Regions from separate parts of the Homo sapiens genome. Here region 1 is linked to region 2. The links come from fine-mapping of genetic effects on gene expression. Tissue or cell type: whole blood. Region 2 holds a variant in brackets; the other region holds the start of a gene. All regions are shown on one strand. Distances are between the middles of the regions. Region 1 holds the start of PCBD1 (pterin-4 alpha-carbinolamine dehydratase 1). Region 2 overlaps SGPL1 (sphingosine-1-phosphate lyase 1).

Region 1 (11,719 bases), 25 kb after region 2:
CCTAAGAACTTTGCTAAGATTTTAAGAAACTGAAGAGACCATCAGGATTTGGGATCTGCCATATCTGATATGATAGGCCTGTGTATTATGATTCTCCAGAGAAACAGAACCAATACACACAAAGAGATTTCTTATAAGGAATTGGCTCATGTGATTATGGAGGCTGACAAGTCCCAAGATCTGTAGTTGGCAAGCTGGAGAACCAGGAAAGCAGATGGTATTGTTGCACACCGGAGGCTTGTAGCCTTGAGACCTAAGGAGAGTGGATGTTTCAGTTTAAGTCCGAAAGCAGGAAAAGACCAATGTCCCACCTCAAGGCAGTCAGGCAGGAGGACTTCCCTTTTATTTGGAAGAGGGTCAGCCCTTTTTAGCCCTTTTTTTCTGTACAGGCCTTCACCTGGTTGAATGAGGCCACCCATGTTAGGGAAGACAGTCGGCTTTACTCAGTCTACTGATTCAAATGTTATCCTCATTCAGAAACACCCTCACAGACACACCCGGAATGTTTGACCAAATGCCTGGGCACCCCATGGCCCAATCAAGTTGACACCTAACATTAGCCATCACAGCCAGGAAGAAAATATAGGTTGAGTATCCCTTATCTGAAAGGTGTGAGACCAGAAGTGTTTCAGATTTTGGATTTTGGAATATTTGCATTATACTGACAAGTTGAGCATCTCTAATCTGAAAATCAGAAATCTAAAATGATCCAATGAGTATTTCCTTTGGGCATCATGTTGGCATTCAAAAAGTTTCAGATTTTGGATTTCCAATTTTCAAATTAGGGATGTTCAACCTGTAATATGGCCCCAGACTGCCTTTCTAGACATAGGTTCCACAATGCATATAATACCTGTGCCCTTCACACCCTTATCTGTGTTCATGGTGTTCTCTCAGCCATCTCTGCCTCCCAAGAATCCTACCCAGGTCTTCAAGGCATAACTCAAAGCCTCCAGATTTGCCCTTTTCACCATTAATCACTTGCGTTCCCTTTAGCTCATTTCTTATCCTGCCACCTAGCATTAATTCACTCTAGTAATAGTTAATTAGTACTAGTTAATTGGTAATTGGTAATAGTTAATTGTGTTCCTGTTTGATGATAATCAAATGGTATCCCCTAGATGATAATGAATCTGAAGGCAAGGTGGTCTGGTCCCTGTCATTTTCCAGTACCTTGAACAGAGGAAGTGCCTAGCACAGAGGAAGTGCTTTCATTTAAATGCCTATTGACTCCAATTTGGATTGACCTGTGGAAAAGAAGTTTCTAGAGCCTGAGACCAAGTGATATAATAGTTTTATTTGAGACATAAAAACACATGTGTTTCTATTACATAGTGTGGGGTTTAGGGTCCTGGTTTCTAAGACAAGACTTTATTTCACCCTGTATCACAGCTTCCTGGGAAATGAATTAGGGAGCAAGAGACGGCCTGGCAAGAAAATCATTATTGTTGCTGGGAAGTTGCAAAGAAAGGGGAGAGTTTATTCAAATTAGTGTAACAGAGCCCCCAGGATGAAGAGAGTGGTGCAGGGAAAAGGTCTAAATTCCTGGTGTTGGTGGGGACACTGGCACATCCCACAGCAAGGACTCAGCCCTCAACGGCGGCGGCTGGGTCTTGGGAGGGGAGTGGTGGGAGGGTAAGGGCTCCTCAGCTCCCTCCCTGGACTCCCAGTTCAGTCACCCCTTCCCCCGGAAGAATTCAAAGAGGAAGGGCAGGGTCTATGTCATGGACACTGCTACTTGTTCGATGAAGCTGGCCAGGTTTATGTCCCGTTCTGAAAGGCCGGCACACTCATGGGTGCTCAGCGTGATGTGGACCTGAAATGAAACCAGAAATTCTGCTTCCACTGACTTCACTTAAGAACAGGAGGGAGTCACTAGCTGCTGGGCTCAGCCCTGCTAGGAGCTCCAGAATAGCAGCTGGCCAGTACGATCTCTCCTGGGGACTCCTTCCTGACATGTCTGTAACAACATCTTCTACATCTCCCCTTTGCTGTCTCTCAAAAATAATCATGACTTCAGCTATAGAATAAAAGCTTAATATCTGAATGTCAAGAGCAACCTAAAAGCTAAAGACAAAACCAAAAACCAATGCCAACTCCTAAACACTATCCATTCATAGACGACCTCTTCCACCCTTACTGTTTTTATAAACAGAGACCAGCAGAGCTTTTGGCACATGGTAGACATTTAATGACTGTTTCTATTCATTAAGCAAATAATTTGATAGGTTGGCTATGTGTCTGTATTTTTTTTTTTTTTTTTTTTTGAGACGGAGTCTTGCTCTGTCTCCCAGGCTGGAGTGCAGTGGCTCAATCTCTGCTCACTGCAAGCTCCGCCTCCCGGGTTCCCACCATTCTCCTGCCTCAGCCTCCCCAGTAGCTGGGACTACAGGCGTCCACCACCGCGCCCGCCTAATTTTTTTGTGTTTTTAGTAGAGACAGGGTTTCACCATGTTAGCCAGGAGGGTCTTGATCTCCTGACCTCGTGATCTGCCCACCTCGGCCTCCCAAATATGTGTGTATTCTTAGTTCAAGTTTATTACTTTTTCATTCTTCCATACCTCCAGCAAGATTAAAGCCATTTAGAGCTATGAACACTGAATAAGTATGCCTGATTCCCACAGCCTTTCCTTTCTTGGGTTTTGCCTTCTTAATGTCTACTTAAATGTCTACTTTAACCACAACTATCTCATGCATCTTTTAATTTGCATTTCTTTATAGTAAGACTGATTTTTTTTTCCCAGGGGTATTTATGTTGATTCTAGGCATGTGCAATCTCAGTGAGATTGGAAATGAGATGAGTGGATGACCTATGGGTCAGGAAGGCTCATTGTTAAGTCCAAAAGCCTTCAGAATGTGTCAGAGTTCGCAGTATTTGGATGGGGGCAGAGCACAACAGAGGCACACAGCATCACTCACCTTGTTGTACACGTTAAACCATTCAGGATGGTGGTCCAGTTTCTCAGCCTGCAGGGCCACTCTTGTCATGAACCCAAAGGCCTATTTAAGTGGAGTGAGAGCCAGGTTAGTGTTCTAAGAGAAAGGACTTCTGGACATCACCAATTCAAGGCCTAGACGCAGGAGGATGAATTAGCTTCCCCCCAGGAGACTCCTCTATAATCATTTCCCCCTTGACATCCTGTCACTGGTTCTCAGGCTTGAGTTAGAGATTGTCCTTGCAGTAGGAAGAAAGTCTTGCTATTTAGGATGTCAACAAGGTGGAAACACCACAACAGGCTTTTGGCCTGGCCAGTCTTGGCCGTCTGTTCAAATGTCTTCAGATGTGCATGGTTTCCACTTGAACTATCTCCTCAGAAGACTGCTGCTAAAAGTTCCAGGAAGGGAGAGCCCAAGACACATCCTCCTATGGCTCTCCAATCCCCAAAGATGATACTTTCTGAGTTAGACAGGAAAATTAATTTCCCCACTGGCACAGTGCCCAAATAACTGGATGAGTGTGGTGTCTGAGAGTCTTGGCTAACAAGACGTGAAGGGAGAGAACATGCTTTGTAAGGTGACCCCATCAGCCCGTCTCAGAAAACTCTGTCCCACCCTGGTGCCATACCCTGTTGAAGTCTTTGAAATGAAACTGCTTGAAGATGGCATCACGGCCTTCCAGCTCATTCCACCCCACAGCCCTCAGGTTTGGCAGCAGCTGGTCCCTCTCCTCAGCGCTCAGCCTGTGTGCTTTGCCAGCCTAGAAGAGGGAAAAAAACAGAGGCCCAAGGGCATTTCTCTTTATAGGTCAAAACAGAGGGGCTCCAACCTTTAGGGGAACTTAGCTTCCACTGGCTGCTTTGGACGTGGGTGACCAAAGGGCAGCAGGTCTTTGAGCAATAGGCTGGGAGGCCTCAAGGGTGGCACCCTGCCCAGGAGGTGGGGTCCAGGCTCGTCTGCCGATAGGCCCTCAGGTCTTGGGTTTTAACACTCCACACACACACAAGGGAAATCACAAAAGCAATGTAATTCATATGACGGGGACAGAGAAGCACTCTTCCCCCACCCTGCCCTCAAAGCCTTACGGACCTTCCCTCCATGAGATTATTACATCAGTGAGGGCGTAAAAGCAAAATAAATCCCAGATGCAAATATGTTACTCCACAACCTCTCAGGAAGAGTACCCATGACTCTCCCCCCTTCCTTTTCCTATTATGTACTTCATCATATGCACCCCACGTCCCTACCGTAACTTTCACGTGTATTGAAGAGGAAACAGGCCTAGAGAGGGGAAACGACTTGTCTGCTGTTCTTTCCCGCCCACCCCTAGCCAGTGATGGCGCAGTGTTGTCTGTGTGTCAGCATTGCTGGGGCTGGACGAAGGAGCTACATTTAAAATAAGTGTCCATCCCATTCTTAGCCACACTGCAGCTGACCGCCGTTGGCACTACCTCTAGTAGGTCCTCAGTCATGCTCCCAGGCAGCCTCTGGTCCTGAGCCGCCAGGGCTAGGTTTCTCTGGTTTTCCGTCTGCTTTTCTGGCTGGTTGGGAAGCTCAGGCCAAAGTGGAAGGAACTTGGCCAAAGGCAGCTGGCAAACCTAGTGCCCCATCCTATTTACCTAATGTGCGAAGTGCCCTCAAGGCAGCCCAAATTGGCACAATTCAGGCCATGAGTGGAACCTCAGAGAAAGCAAGGAAGCAAGGGTCAGTTTCATCCTAGGAGGATCCAGGTCTAGGAGCTTAACAGATCCCAGAACCTAGGCTTCTAGAGTAGCACCACCCCAGGGCAGAAATAGAGTGCTGAATTGAAAAGATACCCTTAGGGGTGGGGAGGGAATGTGAGGGAGGTTGATTTAGCTTTTATGAGGCAGCCTGCAGACTGGACACCATGTGTTGATTGGCAGGAGTTTTGAGACCCGCTTTCACCATTTACCAGCCAGGTGGCTGTACCTCTCTTGGCAGAACCTCCACCTCCACAGATCATCATGAGGTGCCAATGGGACACTTTAGGAAACTCCACTGCTATAAAGCAAATGTCATCTGCATTACAAAAAAAAAACTTCCTAAGGCAAGCAGGCTTGTGATGGGCCTGGTAGCATTTGGGGTAGCTGAAGCATCGCAGTGCTTTCCTAAGTCCGTCTTTTTTCCCTGCTGTTTTCCCTCCTGAAAACGTGAGCTCTCTCTGGACTGATGTAGCTTGGCCCCTCTCTTCCCCTCGGCTCTGGATGACTATAGGGATTGAATGGCAGCAGCGATTTGCATCATCTGCCCAGTAGGTAGGTCTCTACTCCAGAGCTGGCCTTCTCCCCGTGGCTGACCGCCTGGTCCGTGTATCTAGACAACCAGAAGTCAGCCAAAGCATCAGAGCCCACTGTTTACTTCCTTGGCTCTTAAAGGGGTGGGTGAGTCCAGGTGAGCTCTTAGGAGGCTTCCCTTTCTCGGTAGAGCCTTCTGGAACCCCCCAGGTCGCACAGCCTGCGGCTGAACTGACAAACCTTCCAGGTGCCGGCTCTGGAGACAGAGAGGGGGACGCTGCCCCGTTTGCCTCCTCTGGCGAGGTGTGGGGAGTGGTTACCGATTTCCCAAGCCTGCATCTCTGGGACCTCAGCGCCCCTCACAAACAGCCCCACTCATCCTCCCTCCCCCAAGTCCCTCTCCTATCAAAAGGCCCTCCCAGTCTTGCCTGCTCCGAAGGCCTGTGGACCAGAAATGGTCTGATGAAGCTCGCGAGCTTACAGCAGAGCAAGGGCCCCGCCCCCGCCCCCGCCCCGGGGGTGGGTGGGGGAAGCTCACGGGAGGAGGGCTGCTCCAGCGCCACCAAGCCCCCGTGGCCTGGCACGGGCCTCAAGCCGGCGCGGGGAGTGGCTCTGGGGCCAGCATACCGGCGCAGAGCGTGAGTCCCAGGCAGACCCCGTACCCAGAGTGCCAGCGGGAAGGGGCAGCGGACAGGCACGCACACGAGCGCGCAAACTCAGCCTCCCTCTCGCTCCCACCCCAGTATAAAGCAGAATCGGGCCACCAAGGGGACGAGATCCGTGGACTCCTCCACGACTGTCTTCCCCGGCCCAGGAAGGTCGTAGGCCCCGCCCCCGGAAGGGTCCCGGAACAAGCACTGGCCGGGGTCAGGGCAGGCCTGGCCTCCCAACTGGGTGGGATTCGAACCCGCCACCGCCCCTCTCAGGGCTTCAGCTTCCCCTCCCCGCCGCCAGCGACAGAGAGCCGGGCAGAGACCCCACTTTCGGACCCCGGCGGCTCCGCAGGGGACTCGAAAAGACTTTCCCCCGCCCCTTCCCGCTCCCACCTCGCCCGCGGCTGCCCCGGCCCCGCTGCCCCGATCGCGGCCGCGCACCCCTGGACTCACCATGGCGCGGGCGGCAGCAGGTGGCCAGCGGAGAGGGCAGGCGGCGGCCGGGCGCGCAGGCTGCCGTCCCGGGGCGGGGCCGCGCTCGGGCCGCCCTCCGGTAATGATTAACGTCCCCAGCCAGGGACGCGCTCGGCCTGCTTGCTTCCAGCACTTTCCTCGCTGCTCAGAGCCATCCTCCGTGCTTGTTTCAGGGAGCTAGGGTGAAGCATGAGGGCTCCAAATGCCCGCTTCTGGGTTGGAATCCCACCCCGCCGCTTACAGCTGGGTGGCCCTGGGCGCCAGAATACCTATTTTTTTCTTTATAAAAATCTCTTATTTGGATATAATTGACATGCAATAAATTGCACATATTCAACGTGTACAATTTGATAAATTTTAATGTTTCCCTCGTGAGACCATCACCGAGATCAACATTATGAACATATCATCATCCCTGCAAGTTTTCCCTTGCCCTTTGGTAACCCCTTCCTCCCGAAACCACCTGGCCAGGCAAGCACTGATGTACTTTAGGTCACTATAAATTAGTTTGCATTTTCTAGAATTTTATGTAAATGGACCATAGAGTATATACTAGGCAGGATAACTGTTTTGGGGTTCAGCCATGTTGTTGCCTATATCAATGGTTTCTTCCTTTTATGGCTAAGTAAAATTTATTTTATAGTATTGCATTGTACAGATAGACTACAATTTGTTTAGCGATTCACTATTGGACATTTGCGTTGTTTACCTTTTGGCTATTACAAATAAAGCTGCTGCGAATATGGTGCACAAATCTTCGAAAGTACGTATGTTTTAATTTTCCTTGAGTAAACACTTAGGAATGGAATGCCTGGGTCATGTGGTAGGTGGACTTTTATAACTTATTAGGAAACTGCCATACTGTTTTGCAAAATGGTTGTATCATTTTATATTCCTAGCAGCAGTGTATGAAGGTTGCAGTTCTCTGTCCTCACCAACACTTGATATAGTCAGCCTTTTAAATTTTAATTGGTGTGTAGCAGTATCTCATTGTGGTTTTGAGTTTCCTTGATTAGTAATTGTATTGAATGTCTTTTCATGTACTTATTTGCTAAGGATAAGTTTTTTTTATTGAATAGCATGTTTGAATTTCCTGCCCATTAAAAAAGAAATTGGGTTGTCTTCTTATCGAGTTTTGAGGGTGTTTTATTCTGGATATAAGGACATGATCAGGCAGTGATTTGCAAATATTTTCTTTGCATTATCTTATGGTGCCTTTCAAAGAGCAAACGTTCTTAATTTTGATGAAATCCAATATATCAAATGTTTCTTTTATGGATTTCTATTTTGATGTTGTACACATAGAAATCTTGGCCTAACCCAAGATCAAAAGTTTTCTCCTATGTTTTATAGCTTTTGGTTTTACATTTAGTCTGTGATCCACTTTGAGTAAATATTTTTATATGCTTCAAGTTATAGATCCAGATGCACTTTTGCACATGGCGACTCAGTTATTCCTTTCTCCACTGAGTTGTCTTTGCACCTTTGTAAAATATCAATTGACTGTATACATGTGGGTTTATTTCTGAGCCCTTTCTTCTGTTCCATTGATCTGTTTGTCTGTCATGACAGAACACTACCTTGTCTTGATTATTATAGCTTTATAATAAGTCTTAGAGTCAGATTAGAAAAGTCCTCTCACATTTCACATTTTTCTATTAACTTTTATTCTTGTGCTCCACTTTTATTCCCCGCCCCCCACCACCGCCCATAGCAGCCTCTCTAATGTGTTAATGTGTATTTTTGTTTGCACAGGTTCTTGCAAAATGTGTGGTGTTGTTTCGTCTATGTGTATTTTTAAATTTATGTAAATGGTATTATGTAAATATATTACATTTCTCAGTCTGTTTCTTACAAAACAGAGTATTTAGTGGAAAATTAAGATCTACCCATGTTGCTATATGTATATTCAATCTGTAGCTTTTAACTGCAGCCTAGTATTTTGTAATGAGAATCTGCCATGGGTTTCTTGTTCTATCAGTGATGGACACTCAGGTTCCCTTCAACTTTCTGCTGCTACCACCACCTCCCAAGCCCGTGAGCATGTGGGCACACAAACACATACGTACACAGAGTTAAACAACAATGCTGCTGCAGTGAACATCTCTAATTGCTCCCTGGGCTGTGGGCAGTTTCTTAGGCAACTTAAGTATATCCATACCCTATAAATCCAGCAATTCCCCCCATGGGTGTGTATCTCAAAATAGTTCTAGATGATGTCCAGGATGGGGACACCAGTCCTCATTCTCTCCTGCATGGTGTGAGGGGGTACTATTTCCATATGCATCTTACACATACATACTCACACTTCCCATTAGCCAGCTTTTTATTTTTTTGTCAGGCTAATAGCTATAAAATGAGAGCTTGTTGTGATGCAGGATTTTTCTTGACCCCTTTGCTGAGGTTGCAGCAGGGAGTGCCTTATCTACTCAGCTTGCCAGGCCCCATCTGGCTTGTGTTACAGCCCATGGCTCACAAGGCCACTGCGACTGTATGCTCAGCCCCTGGCGGGAGGGAGCATGTGACCGAGTGAATGCAGGGTCCAGCCAGCTGCACTGAGCCATGACACAGGAACAGGCTCTGTGTGGGGCCCACAGCCAGATCAGGTGTGTCACCCCAAGGAGACTGTGGCAGCACCCAGGCAGGGGTGCCTGAAGCCCCAGAGAGGGGTGTTACAGTGTGCTAAATAGCTCTTTTATCTCCACCATCTGCAGCCTGATGGACAGCGGCATGTTGGCAGCTCAGGCGGCCCCTTTCTCCACTCTGGCCCGTGGCTCCTGGACCAGCTTGGCCCTGCTGCAGCTTCTGTTCTGTGGGGCAGCTGCCCTCCACCAGTGAGGGTAGAGGGCCAGCGTTACAGCCTTTGTGGGTGCCCACATTTGGTGGGTCCTGAGCTCTTGTTCTGCATCCAAGAAGAATGAGGTCATGCTGACAGTTGAAGGGTGATGAGGATGGAGAATTTTATTGACGATGAAACAGCTCTCAGTGGAGAGGGATTGAGAAGGTGGGGTTGTCTATCTCAGTGTGGCTGAGTCTAGGGGGTTTTATAGGCACAGGATTGGGGAGGGGCGGGCTGTAGGTAGTATTAGAAAAGGCAACATTTGATTGGTTAAAAAGCATTATTCAGAAAGAACCAATCAGGAAAGGGTGGGCAAACAGGAACAGAAGTTCTCACCCTGGTTTGAGGGGTTTCATCCCAAACCAGCAGTCCAGGCTGTTTTTGGCTTGAAGGTGGGGTTTCACTGGGGACCCACCCCCATCTGCCTAGGAAATTGTCTGCCTCCTGCCGCTTTCAATTGTTTTACTCTACATTGTTTTCTGATGACTAATGATTTTGAGAACCTCTTCATATGCTTGTTACCATTTGGGGGTTACTATTTGTGAATTGCTTTTTAATATCCTTTGCCAATTTTTGAGAATTTTTAGTGCTCTCTTTTTTTAGTTGGTTTGTGGGTGTTTATATAAAATCTAGACATTAATTGCTTGTCAGTTTTGATATTGCAAATATCTCCTCTCATTCTGCCATCTGTATACTGACTTCTTGCATGAGATCCATGATGTCTGTGGGCAGAAATCTTATATTTTGGTGTAATAAGATTTATCTTTTTTCCCTCTGCCTTATAATTTTGTGCATTTGAAAATTTATTTGATAAGTCCTCTCCCCACCCTGCTACAAAAATATACTCCCTTTTCTTTTGTTAACTTTATAGTTAGATAGATTTAAGACCTAAATGTGAAAGGTCCCTTTTGGTATGTAGTGTTAGGCAGGATGTTAGTCTCCAAAGATAGCCCCCAATGAACCATGACTCCCAATATTCACACCCTGCATAGTTCTCACCCATGTTGAATCTGGGATGGCCCAGTATGACCAGTCAAATATGGCAGAAATGTCACCATGTGACTTTGTTTTGATACAGTGTCTTGCTCTGTCGCCCAGGCTGGAGTGCAGTGGTGCAATCATAGCTCATTGCAGCCTTGACCTCCTGGGCTCAAGTGATCCTCCTGCCTCAGCTCCCCCAGGTAGTCACCATGCCTGGATAATGTTTTAAATTTTTTACAGAGACAGGACATTTCTATGTTGCCAGGCTGGTCTCAAATTCTTGGGCTCAAATGTTGGGCCTTGGCCTCCCAAGTGTGGGATTCCAGGTGTGAGCCACCACATCCAGCTATAACTTCTAAGACTAAGCCAAAGAAACTCTGGGAACTGTTAATCATTCTCCAGCCACGTGAGTGAGACTCTTGGATGCTCAGACCTGCCAAACCTTCAGATGACTTCAGCCCCAGGAGACATCTGACTTCAATCCCACGTGAGGCCCCAAGTGAGACCAGTCAACCCGTGGAAGCATGAGAAATCATAATTTTTGTTTTAAGCCACTCAGCATGATGATTTGTTCTGCAGCAATAGGAACAAATGGCAGGAACAAAATTTGGTGCCTGAAAGTGGAATGTTGCTATAAAAGCAACCTAAAATGTGTAGCGTTAGGTTGAGAATGGGTGGTGAGAGACGGTGGAAGGAAAGACTTAAGGACAGCAAGAAGTATTCACCTTCCATCCAGGAGGCAGAAAGCCTTGCTATCATACTTAACAATGAGAAAAGACTGCATGCACTACAAAGTCATCACTTTTCTTGAGCTCACCAGGGAGGTGAGCTCACAGGGCAACCAAGTATCCTGAATTCCAAGGGGGCAGGTCCCTCCAAGGAGAGGCAGGATGTGCAGTCTGGCTCACTTGGGCAGTGCTTGGAGGAAGGGGCAGCCTCCATTAAAGTGGGTAAGAAGAAAGAAATCAGTTCAGTTTTAACAAATTGTTGGAAGCCAGGTGTGGGCTGGCGTGTCGGTCTGAGACAGCAGGGGGCCCAGACAAGGTGAGAGTTTGCACACACTAACTGCTTCCTCTCTGTGCATGCTCTCAGAGTGCTCATCCGGTGAGGGAGTGGGGAAGGATGAGGGAAGGAGAGGGACCCACTCAGTAGTGTGGGGGCTGAAGGGGCTGTTTTTGCTGTGGGAAAAGCGCCCAACCCCCTGTCCTAAGCCCCCTGTTCAGTGGAGCAAAAGCCTTAAGCCACAGGCTGAGGGCCAACAAACCCTGTCACTCCCAGGCACGCACAGCCCCATGGTGGCTCATTTCTGGTAGGAGAACCCCCCTACCCTTGGGGGAGGTCCAGGAAACCGTACTGGGACCAAGATCCTATGTTAATATCATTCCAGGTCAGCTGCCTCTGGGGCAGAGTGGGAAGCTCTCCCATGAAGGACCTGCCCCGGATATAAGGCAGGGTCCACTGCACTGAAGCGGATGGGTGGGAAGGCTGAGAAAGCTCCACAGCCCCGGGCAGCAGAGAGCCTACACTTACCTCCTCACCACAAACCTGGTAGTGGGCAGCCAGCCTGGTAGTCACCACCG
Region 2 (11,719 bases):
ATGTGGGTTTCCAGGCTTGGCTTAAGGGAGCCGGCGTCTGAGACCGGGGTGCTCATGGTTTATACCTCATTGTGGTTTGTTTGCTGGTTTCATCTCTGATGATAGTGTGCTGAAATTTCACACTTTTCATTTTGCTTTCTTCTGCCAACTCTGCTCATAATAGTTCTCAAAATTCCTAGGACTGGATAGGAAAGGAGAGAAGAAGGAAGCTATTGCAGAAAAAGGCCACTCCAAAGCCATATAGAGAACAAAAAATAAGTATAGACAAAGGCAAATGTTCCTGCTGTTAGAAGGCAGTTGAGGATGAGGACAACATTATTATCAGATTGCCTTTATTGTAGCTAAATGCTATTAATATCTTTTTCACATTGCTGATAATAATGATTTTTCATCTTTATTTTATTGTGCTAACTCTATTGAACTTTTTTCTTGATTTGCTATAAGAATGCTGTTGGGTTTCCACTCAACATTTTTTTCTTTTGTATCCAGAGGAGTTTCTTCCTGTTTCTTCTTTATCAGAACCTGTCTTCCCAGAGATTCTTGCTTACTGACCAGTGACCTTACCTTTCTCTGCAGACGCCTTCTGGCAAGAGGGGAGAGCCTCTGGAACAGTGTACAGTGGGGAGGAGAAGCTCACTGAGCTCCTTGTGAAGGTGAGTGTCCAGTTCTTGAGGGAAGCCTGTGAGGTCTGTGCCAGTTTACATGACCTCCTTTTTTTCCCTTACTTTTGTAATTAGAAAAATTACTTAAGGAAAGCTTATTGGTACAATAAAACCATAAAAGTTTCTCTTCACCCAAACATAGGCGAATATGTATAATATTATCAAAGACATCTTCAGTCTGTAAAATAGTAAAATGTTATTTATGTTTTCAGTCTTTGCAGATGTCCTGTCTAGAAGGCAGATTACTAGGGAAGGTAGTCCTGTCAGATGAGATTTTTGTGGTGAGACAGATTTTGTTTGATAAGAAGAGATAAGATAGGGAAACTCTTTCATAATTTTCTCAAATCATGTGACCCAAGATGAGCAGTGGTCTCATGTATACTTCAAATAATTCTCATTCTTAGCTTCTTCCATTTCTAATCAAATTTATTTTTATTTTATTTTATTATTTTTACAGACAAAGTCTCACTCTGTCACACAGGCTGGAGTGGAGTGGTGTAATCATGGCTCACTTCAGCCTTGACCTCTTTGGCTCAAGTGATCCTCCCACCTCAGCCTCCTGAGTAGTTGGGACTACAGGCGTGCATCATGACACCCAGCTAATTTTTGTATTTTTTTGTTGGAGATGGGGTCTCACTCTGTTGCCCAGGTTGGTCTTCAACTCCCAGCCTCAAGTGATCCTCCTGCCTTGGCCTCTGAAAGTGTTGAGATTACAGCTGTGAACCACTGCACTCGGCCCTCATATTTATTTTTGAAACTCCACTTCATCATATAAAATTGGGGTTGTACTGATGATCTCTAAGGTCTTTGTGTTTGATTATTATAAATATGAAACTGTCCCTTACTAAATAAATATGGCAGGTTTTGCATAAGTTGGTGTAATGCTCTGATCTTCTGTGCTTAAAATCTTTCAGTAGCTTCCCATTATCTACAGGATGAAACTCAGGTTCTTATGCAGCAGAGAATACAAGTTTCTTCATGAGCCAGCTCCCACTTATTTTTTCTTAACTACTTCTCTTCATTTCCCACATAAACACTAATCCTGCCTTTTCTCTTTACTAAATGTGTCATGCTTTTACGTTGTTTTCCTTCCCTTCCATCATTCCTCTTGTTCCAAATGATGATTCCTACTCATCTCTCAAAGTTCCACTCAGCAGACACCTCTAGATCACTCAGGATGTTAGTTGTTCCCTCTTCAGGGTCCCTTAGCACTCTGTACACACACCTGATATTGCAGTCGATAACAACAGCTGCTTTGTGCCAGACACTCTACTAAGTGCTTCACATGCATTATGTTATTTAATTATTGCTAGAACACTAGAAGATAGCTACCATAACAACTTCTGCGTATGAAGAAACAACCTTAGATTATGTGACCTACACAGCTGAAAGTAATAGGCAAAGCTTAGACTTCCTCCTGGGTCGGTTTGGTGTTATAGTCTGCGCTTTTAACCATATTTATACTTCTTTCCTCATCACATTGTAAAATTATTTATTTACATGTCTGTCTCCTCTGCTATGTTTTGATCTTTTGGTTGAGGAATATATCTTATCTTTTTTTCCAGTTTATATTGTTGTGCCTAATACTTAGAAACTGTTGTTTAGTGCATGATTCTTTGTCCTGTATAGTGTAATAGTTTTGATTTCACATCTGCTTGCATTTTTTTGCAGGCTTATGGAGATTTTGCATGGAGTAACCCCCTGCATCCAGATATCTTCCCAGGACTACGCAAGATAGAGGCAGAAATCGTGAGGATAGCTTGTTCCCTGTTCAATGGGGGACCAGATTCGTGTGGATGTGTAAGTATATGCAAGGGGCATCCAATAGCCTTATTTTTTAGGTTAAAATAGAAGAGTTTTTAATAAATATTAATTATATTTTAAAAAATAAAAAATATTAAAAATATTTTACTACACAAGAAATATTTGATCATTGTAGAAAGGTCATTTTACTACACAAGGAATATTTGATCATTGTAGAAAGATCCTAATTAACTGCAGTTTTAAATGTTACTTGTAATTTTGTAACCTAGACAATGTCAACATTTTGGTATATATTCTTCTAGATATTTTTATTTTCACCTTTTTATTTTGAAAAACTTTGAACCTACATTGAGTTGCTAGGATGGCTTAAAGAACACCTTAGATTCACTAAATGTAAATATGTTGCCATATCTGCTCTCTACACTCTTTCCCTCCCTACCCGCTTCTTCCCTCATCCCCCACCTGCATACCTACCATTCCCCTATTTATCTGTGTATACTTTTGTTGTTCCATCCAGCAGTGTTTTTAGTGTACTTCTGGTTTTACCTGAGCCAAAGTTTAATTTATTATTTTGCTGTAAACTGAACCTCATTTAGTTGCTATTAGGCATAAAGAAAGGGGGAGGACATCATTATATTTAAAGAAACACATGAGGATTCTTTGTTTTACCTGTTCTTTCAAGTAGATGGTTGTTAGTTTTCGTAAACTATGATAGATAAACTTCTGTTTAGATCTGTTGTCTTTAGAAAAAACGAAATCTCAGGTTATGTAGGATAGATAGATTTAACTCAATATGCTGCAATGGTGTCCTAGAGGTGCTAATCCTATCAGATACTCATCATATTTGCAGTCATTATAAAGACTGCAGATTTAATTATTGAAGGGCCCATTCGAAGAGCACCTAATTTAGTTTCTTTTTTTTTTTCCAGGAAGCATTGTTTTTGTTTTGTTTTTCTAATATGTTGGCGCCATGAAAATCATCATGTTCAAATATTAGTAGTAATAAAGGTGATATGCCTGGCATTCATTTTCAAAGCAAAATACTGAAACTGTTAAAAACAGAACCACCCATAATACAGCAGCAGTTTCCCTTAGAGTACTGAGGTGAACAGGGTGACTTTCAGAGGGAAGATGATAATGTACTTACAGTATATTCTCCTATGCCATTAGACTCTTGAAGAACTTGTAAGAGGCCAGAGTGAATAGCCACAGAACAGTTTGGCCTTATCTGGTAAATTTGAAGATACATATATCTTATGACCCAGAAATTCTGCTACTAGGACATACTCTAGAAAAATTAGTACACATATATATCAGGATATATGGACATTAATATTCATAGCAATGTTATTCATGATAGCTAAAAACTGGAAGTAATTCAAATGCCTATCCACAGGACACAGATGAATAAATTGTGGAATGCTGTGTGTGCCTCAATCCATTGTAGCTCTTATTCAGATTGATGTACAAATTGCCTCATCCATCTTTGGCCAGTGGAAACATCATATTGGCTCCTAGGTCCATTTACATGACCCAAGTAATCTTTGAAAGCCTTTTTTCTCTTTCTTTCCTTTTTTTTTTTTTTTTGACGAAATATTCCAGGTTCAGGTTCACTTTGTCCATTTCCTGCTCCAGGCCTTCAATCAGCCATTTATCCAAGGAGCCCTGGTTCATTTAAAACTAGGTAAAATAATTACATAGTTCCAAAATCACATTTATGGAACAAGACAGATTAAAAAAAAAAAGTTAACCAGAATGCAGTCCAGAGAGACAAAGAAATAGAAGGTATGAAAGAGAGGCTAAGAGATGCAAAGGATAGGATGAGAAGGCTAACACACATCTAACTGGTGTTTGAGAGCAGCCAGAGAAAATAGATTACCTACAAAGGCATAACTGTTAGGACAACTGATACTCAATAGCAACGATGGCTGGGGCAGTTGGGGGTAGATGAAAGATTGGCTGTAAATTGAAAATTGCTGGAGCCTGGTGATAAGTAGTGAGAGGTCACAGCGTGCTGGCAGTCCTCACAGCCCTCGCTCGCTCTCGGCGCCTCCTCTGCCTGGGCTCCCACTTTGGCGGCACTTGAGGAGCTCTTCAGCCCACCGCTGCACTGTAGGAGCCCCTTTCTGGGCTGGCCAAGGTCGGAGCCGGCTCCCTCAGCTTGCAGGGAGGTGTGGAGGGAGAGGCGTGAGCCGGAACCAGGGCTGCGCGCAGCGCTTGCGGGCCAGCTAGAGTTCCCGGTGAGCATGGGCTTGGCGGGCCCCGCACTCGGAGCAGCCGGCCGGCCCTGCCGGCCCCGGGCAATGAGGGGCTTAGCACCCAGCCAGCAGCTGCGGAGGGGGTTCTAGGTCCCCCAGTAGTGCCGGCCTACCGGCACTGCGCTCGATTTCTCGCTGGGCCTTAGCTGCCTTCCCCTGGGGCAGGGCTCGGGACCTGCAGCCCGCCATGCCTGAGCCTCCCACCCCCTCCGTGGGCTCCTGTGTGGCCCCAGCCTCCTTGACGAGCGCCACTCCCTGCTCCACGGCGCCCAGTCCCATCGACCACCCAAGGGCTGAGGAGTGCAGGCGCACAGCGCAGGACTGGCAGGCAGCTCCAGTCCTGCAGGCAGCTCCACCCGCAGCCCCGGTGCGGGATCCACTGGGTGAAGCCAGCTGGGCTCCTGAGTCTGGTGGAGCCTTGGAGAACCTTTATGTGTAGCTCAGGGATTGTAAATACACCAATCGGCACTCTGTATCTAGCTCAAGGTTTGTAAACACACCAATCAGCACCCTGTGTCTAGCTCAGGGTTTCTGAGTGCACCAATCGACACTCTGTATCTCGCTGCTCTGGTGGGGGCTTGGAGAACCTTTGTGTGGATACTCTGTATCTAACTAATCTGATGGGGACGTGGAGAACCTTTGTGTCTAGCTCAGGGATTGTAAACGCACCAATCAGCGCCCTGACAAAACAGACCACTTGGCTCTACCAATCAGCAGGATGTGGGTGGGGCCAGATAAGAGAATAAAAGCAGGCTGCCAGAGCAAGCAGTGGCAACACGCTCGGGTCCCCTTCCACACTGTGGAAGCTTTGTTCTTTCGCTCTTTGCAATAAATCTTGCTACTGCTCACTCTTTGGGTCCACGCTGCTTTTATGAGCTGTGACACTCACCACGAAGGTCTGCAGCTTCACTCCTGAAGCCAGTGAGACCACGAGCCCACCGGGAGGAACGAACAACTCCGGACGCGCTGCCTTAAGAGCTGTAACACTCACTGTGAAGGTCTGCAGCTTCACTCCTGAGCCAGCGAGACCACGAACGCACCAGAAGGAAGAAATTCCGGACACATCCGAACATCAGAAGGAACAAACTCCAGACGTGCTACCTTAAGAGCTGTAACACTCACCGCGAGGGTCCGCGGCTTCATTCTTGAAGTCAGTGAGACCAAGAACCCACCAATTCCGGACACAGTAGAAGCCCATTGGGCTTTTCAATTTTATTTACTCTAATTTCATTCTAAAGAATTCTGTTTTGTAGTTCTCCTTTTATTTTATTATTATTTTTTGAGACAGGGTGTCACTCTGTTGCTCAGGCCAGAGTGTAGTGGTGCCATCTCAGCTCACTGCAGCCTTGACCTCTCTGGGCTCAAGCGACCCTCCCACCTCAGCCCCCTTGAGTAGCTGGGACTACAGGCATGCACCACCATGCCTCGCTAATTTTTGTATTTTTAGTAGAGATGGGGTTTCACCATGTTGCCCAGGCTGGTGTTGAACTCCCAAGCTGAAGTGATCTGCCTGCCTTGGCTTCTCAAAGTGCTGGGATTACAGGCGTAAGCCACCACGCTTGGCCGTCTTTTTTTTTTTTTTTTTTTTTTAATCTGCTTGGTTGTTTTTTATAGTCCTTTTCCTTGGCTTAACTTTTGTTTACTTAAATATATTACACATAAATATGTTGTATTCTGTGTCTGATAATTCCAATATCCATGAGCCTTACCTGATTCTGCTGGCTTCAGTCATGGTTCCTTGTTTCCTTATATTTGTGATTTTATTTTATTTATTTATTTTTTTATGAGCCACTCATTTTTCTGGGAACCTAGGGATTCTTTGAGGCCTAGATTGAAGTTAAGTCTGGAAGTTCTCTTCTTCCAGAGAAGATTTGTCATACCTTTTTGAGTTGCTGGGGATTGCCACCACACTGGAACCAAATTAAGTCAAATCCTTAGCTTGTCATTTTGTACCACAGAGGTAGTGTGAATTCTGACCACAAACTCACATAAAGGCTTCCTTGTTACACATTCTTGAAAGATTGCTATTTTTCTTTACTTGAACATCAGGGTTGAGAAAAACAGTTTTTCTTTTCTCTTTTGCAGTAGTGGGATTTATTTCTTGTACACTGTAGAGTGTGGTCTTTTTCCAGCCATCTCCTGTTGGACTCCTTATCTTGGGCAGTCTCTAATGTATCTTCTGGTCCATCCTTTGCTCATCTGTCAGTGTAGGAGTTTGAAGTCTGAAGGGTCTGGTGCCACCTCAGGGTGAAAGCTAGTTTTGCCACTCACTTATCTTGCAGGATTCTTGATTTTGCTTTGTTTGGGGGTTTAGCAAGTTTCTTTATGTTAGGTTAGTGATAGGTTTAAATTTTTTTTTTTTGATGTTTTATCAAGTTTTTTAGTTATTTCAGTTAGGAAGGTTGCTCAAGGTATATAATATTGCTAGAAATAGAAGTTCCATAATTGTTTTTTCCATGTTACAGACCTTCGTCT[A/G]TTTGAAAGCCCCTTTCTCCCTGAATCTTCTCTGCCCCACATTTTTCTGGGTTACTCCGCTTTTCATATGATTTCACAGACTTCCAACCATCGCAGTCATTCTCTGTATGACTTTTGGTTGCCTCTGGCCAGATTGAACACAGTTCTCCACATTTGGAGTGGCATTGATCTTTCAATCTCTGTCTTTTTTAAATCTGGGTTCAATAAACTTATTTCAGACCTTTTCCTTGAAGTCAGCATTTTTATTCTTGGCAATGTTTATTTTATTCCTTGCTGTTCCTAATGTCTTTGTTAGTTCTGTATGGATGCTACTGGCTTTGTTTTTTTAGGTCTGTAGCTCATTCTTTTTGTTTCATGGTCTAGGTTTTGAACTCTTTGTTTTCTTAAATTCATGTTCTTATGATATTTTCCTATAGTGAGAAAGTTATAAGGGGTTTCCTTCATCCCTTAGCTTGTTTCCTTCTGTGTTGGGTTTTTATTTTGCATGCTACATACTACCTTTTCCCCTGCCTTTTAGTTTGTTTGCATAGTTTCCTTGCCATTTTCTCTCATCTTGGGGTGGCATTCTCCAGACATTGTTCTTATGCACTGTGGGTGCTTCCTGTCTGAGACCATTTGGCTGGGGACAAAGCTCAGCCAAAGCTTTGTTCTATCTGTATTAGAATAACCAGGTCTATTCTGAGATTCTCTTCAAAGTTACCTATCAGAGTTCACTCTCTTATTTGGAAGAGATAATATACCCTTTGAGCTCTGATTATTTAATTCACTGAAGTCTTCACTCTAAAGAGCCAATCCTGATGTTCTCTCTTCATTTTGCTCATTTCTCCCTAGCAGCCATGTTTACCACTCACTCATGAGAAGAAGAAGAAAATAAGGAAACCCCCTCAGCTTGCCTCTGCAGATTTGGGGGTATAAAGGAAAATTCTCAGGATTTTGCTGACTTTGCGGTACAGTTTCAAGGGCTGATTAGAAACTAGTGTTTTGCTTACTTCTGCTCTCTGCTGTTTCACTGTTTCTTTTTTTTTTTTGATTGCCAATATTTGAAGTTTATTGCCTAGATTATCTCTCTTTCCTTGTTTGGTTGTTGTTATTGTAGATTTTGACTCTTTTCTCTCCCTGCACTCACCCTTTTTTTTTTTCTTCCCATCTTACTCCTGAAGTCCAGGCCTAGGGGTTTTTTGCATTGCTGCAATTAAACCATATCTCTATTATTTTGATCTTCAGCACGTGTGAGGGATCAGAAGAAGGATAGAGTCTGATTCCCAGGCTCTTCTAATATTTAGACTTTTATAAAATAACTAATCAGCACTGGTATTGTCTTTTTCCCTCTCCCACTCTGTCTCCCCCACTCCTCCCTTAGCTTCTTACTTCTCTCTCTGGATGAGCTGCTTCTAGTGAAGAAAGAGTTCACTGTTCAGAGGTGGGAAGCCAGAAGATAAAACCAAATGGCTGGGCAGTCTTTAGGTTATTCCTAGCTAAGAGTTAAGAGTTGTAAGCTCTCTCATTCTTTGTTCTTCAGCCTTAAACTATCTTTCCTTCTATTAACTTTATTTGTCTCAGTTACAATGATAGAGGTAACTTCACATACTAAAAGAAATTAGGTTACCATGTGAAACATTCTTCTTGGCTTGTGCTAATGTTATCAGATCCAAACAGCATCTGAAAGAAAATTTTCCAAGTAGATGTTGTTCTCTTGTTTTCTGAAATACATATCATATGTTAAAGTGAGAGTTTTTATACATGTTGAAAGAAGTTGAATGACATAACAAATAGTTACTGAGGCCTCCATTTTCTTACTTCACAGTTAAAATTCCTGTTTCTCTTTGGGTATAGGAGGTAGAAAGAAGTGGGAGAGTAATAGCATTTTAAAACACAGAATCAAAAATACATATTAAAAGTAGAACTTAGGCCCAGGCACAGTGACTCACGCCTGTAGTCCCAGCACCATGGGAGGCTGAGGCAAGTGGATCGCTCGAGCCCAGGAATTCGAGACCAGCCTGGGCAACTAGGTGAAACCCTGTCTCTACAAAAAATACAAAAGTTAGCCAGGCATGGTGGGGTGTGCCTGTAGTCCCAGCTACTTTGGGGGATGAGGTGGGAGGATCTCTTAGGCCTGGGAGGTGGAGATTGCAGTGAGCCGAGATCACGCCATGGCACTCCAGTCTAGGTGAAAGATTGAGACCCCATCTCAAAAAAAAACAAAAAAGAAAAAAGTAGAATTTAGGTATTCCTACTTTTACAGTCAAAAGTCCACTGGTGTTTGCATAACAATGATGTTTTGACTAGTTATTGGACTAAAAGTAGGACACATGAAGCAGGTGACTAGGAATTTGGAAATATTATTGCTTAGGTCATTACTGGACCTTACGAAGAGATTGTTGCACTGGTGACTTGGACTTTGCTGGTCCCTCCCCGACTCTTCACAGCTGGCTTGACGACTCTTGTGACATTCTGAGGTTTTATGCTAAACCACAGGACATGCTGCTGATTTGCAGAGCTGACCTCAGCTGTAAGCACTTTGTCTTCTGCAGCGTAGAAATGTAGTGACCTACAAGTGTCCCATGCCCAAGTTGGGTGCATTATTTTTTGGTGATGGTCACATGTTTCATAAAGACTTCCTGAGTCAAAAAATGACTTTTCTCAGTTCATCTTCCATATAACTCCTGGCCACAGGGATTTTGTATCCAATGGTATTTTTGTTCTATGTGTGGATATTATTTTAGCAAAGTTCAGTGGTCACTTTCTCTGATTCCATCTTGTATTAAGCTACACTAAATATGAAAACGTAGAAAGTTTTACTTCTTATCAACAGATGCTAATGTATGACATTGAGTGAAACACTTTAATTCCTCAAGGGCTCAGTTTTCTCACCTGTAAATTGAAAAAACCTTTCAAAGATTGTATGAATCTTCAGAGATGGTAAGTCTAAGAAGTTGTCCAACTAGTTTAGTATTGTGGCTTTTTGTTTGTTTTGGAATGATTCATTCTCATATATTATTTTTTAAAAAAATAGCCAGGTGGCTATGACATGCCTGTGTTGGTCAAGGTTTACTGAGAGTCAAGTCAGGCATTAAGAAATGTGAAGGCCAGGTGCAGTGGCTCACACCTGTAATCCCAGCTCTTTGGGAGGCTGAGGTGGGCAGATCACTTGAGGCCAGGAGCTTGAGACCAGCCTGGCCAACATGGTGAAACCCCGTCTCTGCTAAAAATACAAAAATTAGGTGGGCATGGTGGTGGGCGCCTGTAATCCGAGCTACTCGGGTAACTATGGCAGGAGAATCGCTTGAACCAGGAGGCAAAGGCTGCAGTGAGCCGAGATCATGCCATGGCACTCCAGCCTGGGCAACAGAGTGAGACTCTGTCTCAAAAAAAAAAAAAAAATGGATTGAGGGTTTGTTAGGTGTCAGCCACTATGTCAGGTGCTAGGAATTTGTCATGAACAGACTGGTCCCTACTTTCATGAATTTATAGTCCAGTGAGGGAAATAAGATGAATAAAAAGACCCCTACGTCTTTTTGTTTGAACTCTGGTAAAGAAATGTGTTTATCAGAGGGGCTAGGCCAAACTTTAGGAAAACATTTCACTTCACTTAAAAAAAATTAGGATTTTTGTTTTATTTCAGATAAGGCAACAAACTTCCATCAAGTAGAAACTTCTGCTTTTCTCTGTCTTTCAAACTTGTCAAAATCAGCAGTTTACTTTGTTAAATCTGAATGTCTCTTTTTAGTGTATTGCACAGTTTACTAGAATTGTAATCACAATTTCACATTCTTTAACAGGTATTGAAAATTTAAATTAAAATTCTGATATTTTTGAATGGCATAAAATGCCCTATCTTATCTGAAAATTGAAAAATTAATACAGAAATGTAAATGGATTGTGAATAGGTGGGATCTGGCCAAGTGTGCATTTGTCTAGGCAGTGCTGAGTTTCTGCTCATTATTTAGTAGCTTTCATTCTTCACCTGAGCCAAAATTAGGCTTAGCCAATAAAGCCAAATTTTCCTTCTGGAAGACATGGCAGTGTCTGCCTTGCAGCATGCATCCAAGACCTTATCTGTTTCTGTATCAAACATTGTCAAGATCAGGGCATGAAGAGCCGGGGCATTCCTGACTCCCCCAACAGATGGCATCTCTTCTTTATTATAGGTGACTTCTGGGGGAACAGAAAGCATACTGATGGCCTGCAAAGCATATCGGGATCTGGCCTTTGAGAAGGGGATCAAAACTCCAGAAATGTATGTATGTGTGGCTGTTTTGTCCCCTTTTGGATTTGTCTGTCTGGAGTACAGCTTTATGAAACTAAAGCAGATAATCCATTTTCCTGCTGCTTCTCTTCCTCTGGTAATTCTGGTCCCCTTTCCCCCTGTCCTAGCCCCTCTGCCCTTATCCTTTTACATTCAGTAAAATTCTAAATGGATCAGCCAGTTATTTTTAAAGATCATTCCCATCCCGCCCCACCCCCAGATCATGCATAGTATATACTACAAGCAAAAATAAGATCCTTTTTCCAAAAGTGAGAGTTTGAGGACTACATCTTTGAATCCTGTGATATTTGCAA

What was found. PIP is the estimated chance that this variant, and not a neighbour inherited with it, causes the effect.
Region 1: PCBD1 starts here. The variant in region 2 is fine-mapped to the expression of PCBD1 in whole blood (INTERVAL, PIP 0.91).

The regions. Positions count from the first base shown.
Region 1 is chr10:70,882,233-70,893,951 of GRCh38, forward strand. PCBD1 (pterin-4 alpha-carbinolamine dehydratase 1) reads right to left here and starts at 6,333. Exons shown (of 4, transcript NM_000281.4): 1 at 6,299-6,333; 2 at 3,566-3,697; 3 at 2,920-3,000; 4 at 1,278-1,816. The coding sequence starts at 6,301. The coding sequence ends at 1,718. RefSeq lists silencers at 5,590-5,869, 6,200-6,449, 11,168-11,257, 11,268-11,317.
Region 2 is chr10:70,857,038-70,868,756 of GRCh38, forward strand. SGPL1 (sphingosine-1-phosphate lyase 1) reads left to right here. Exons shown (of 15, transcript NM_003901.4): 6 at 577-653; 7 at 2,334-2,462; 8 at 11,308-11,396. Among named protein-coding and RNA genes, the nearest start is that of PCBD1, 26 kb to the right of the region's middle. The variant A/G (reference allele first, on the strand shown) is at 7,160.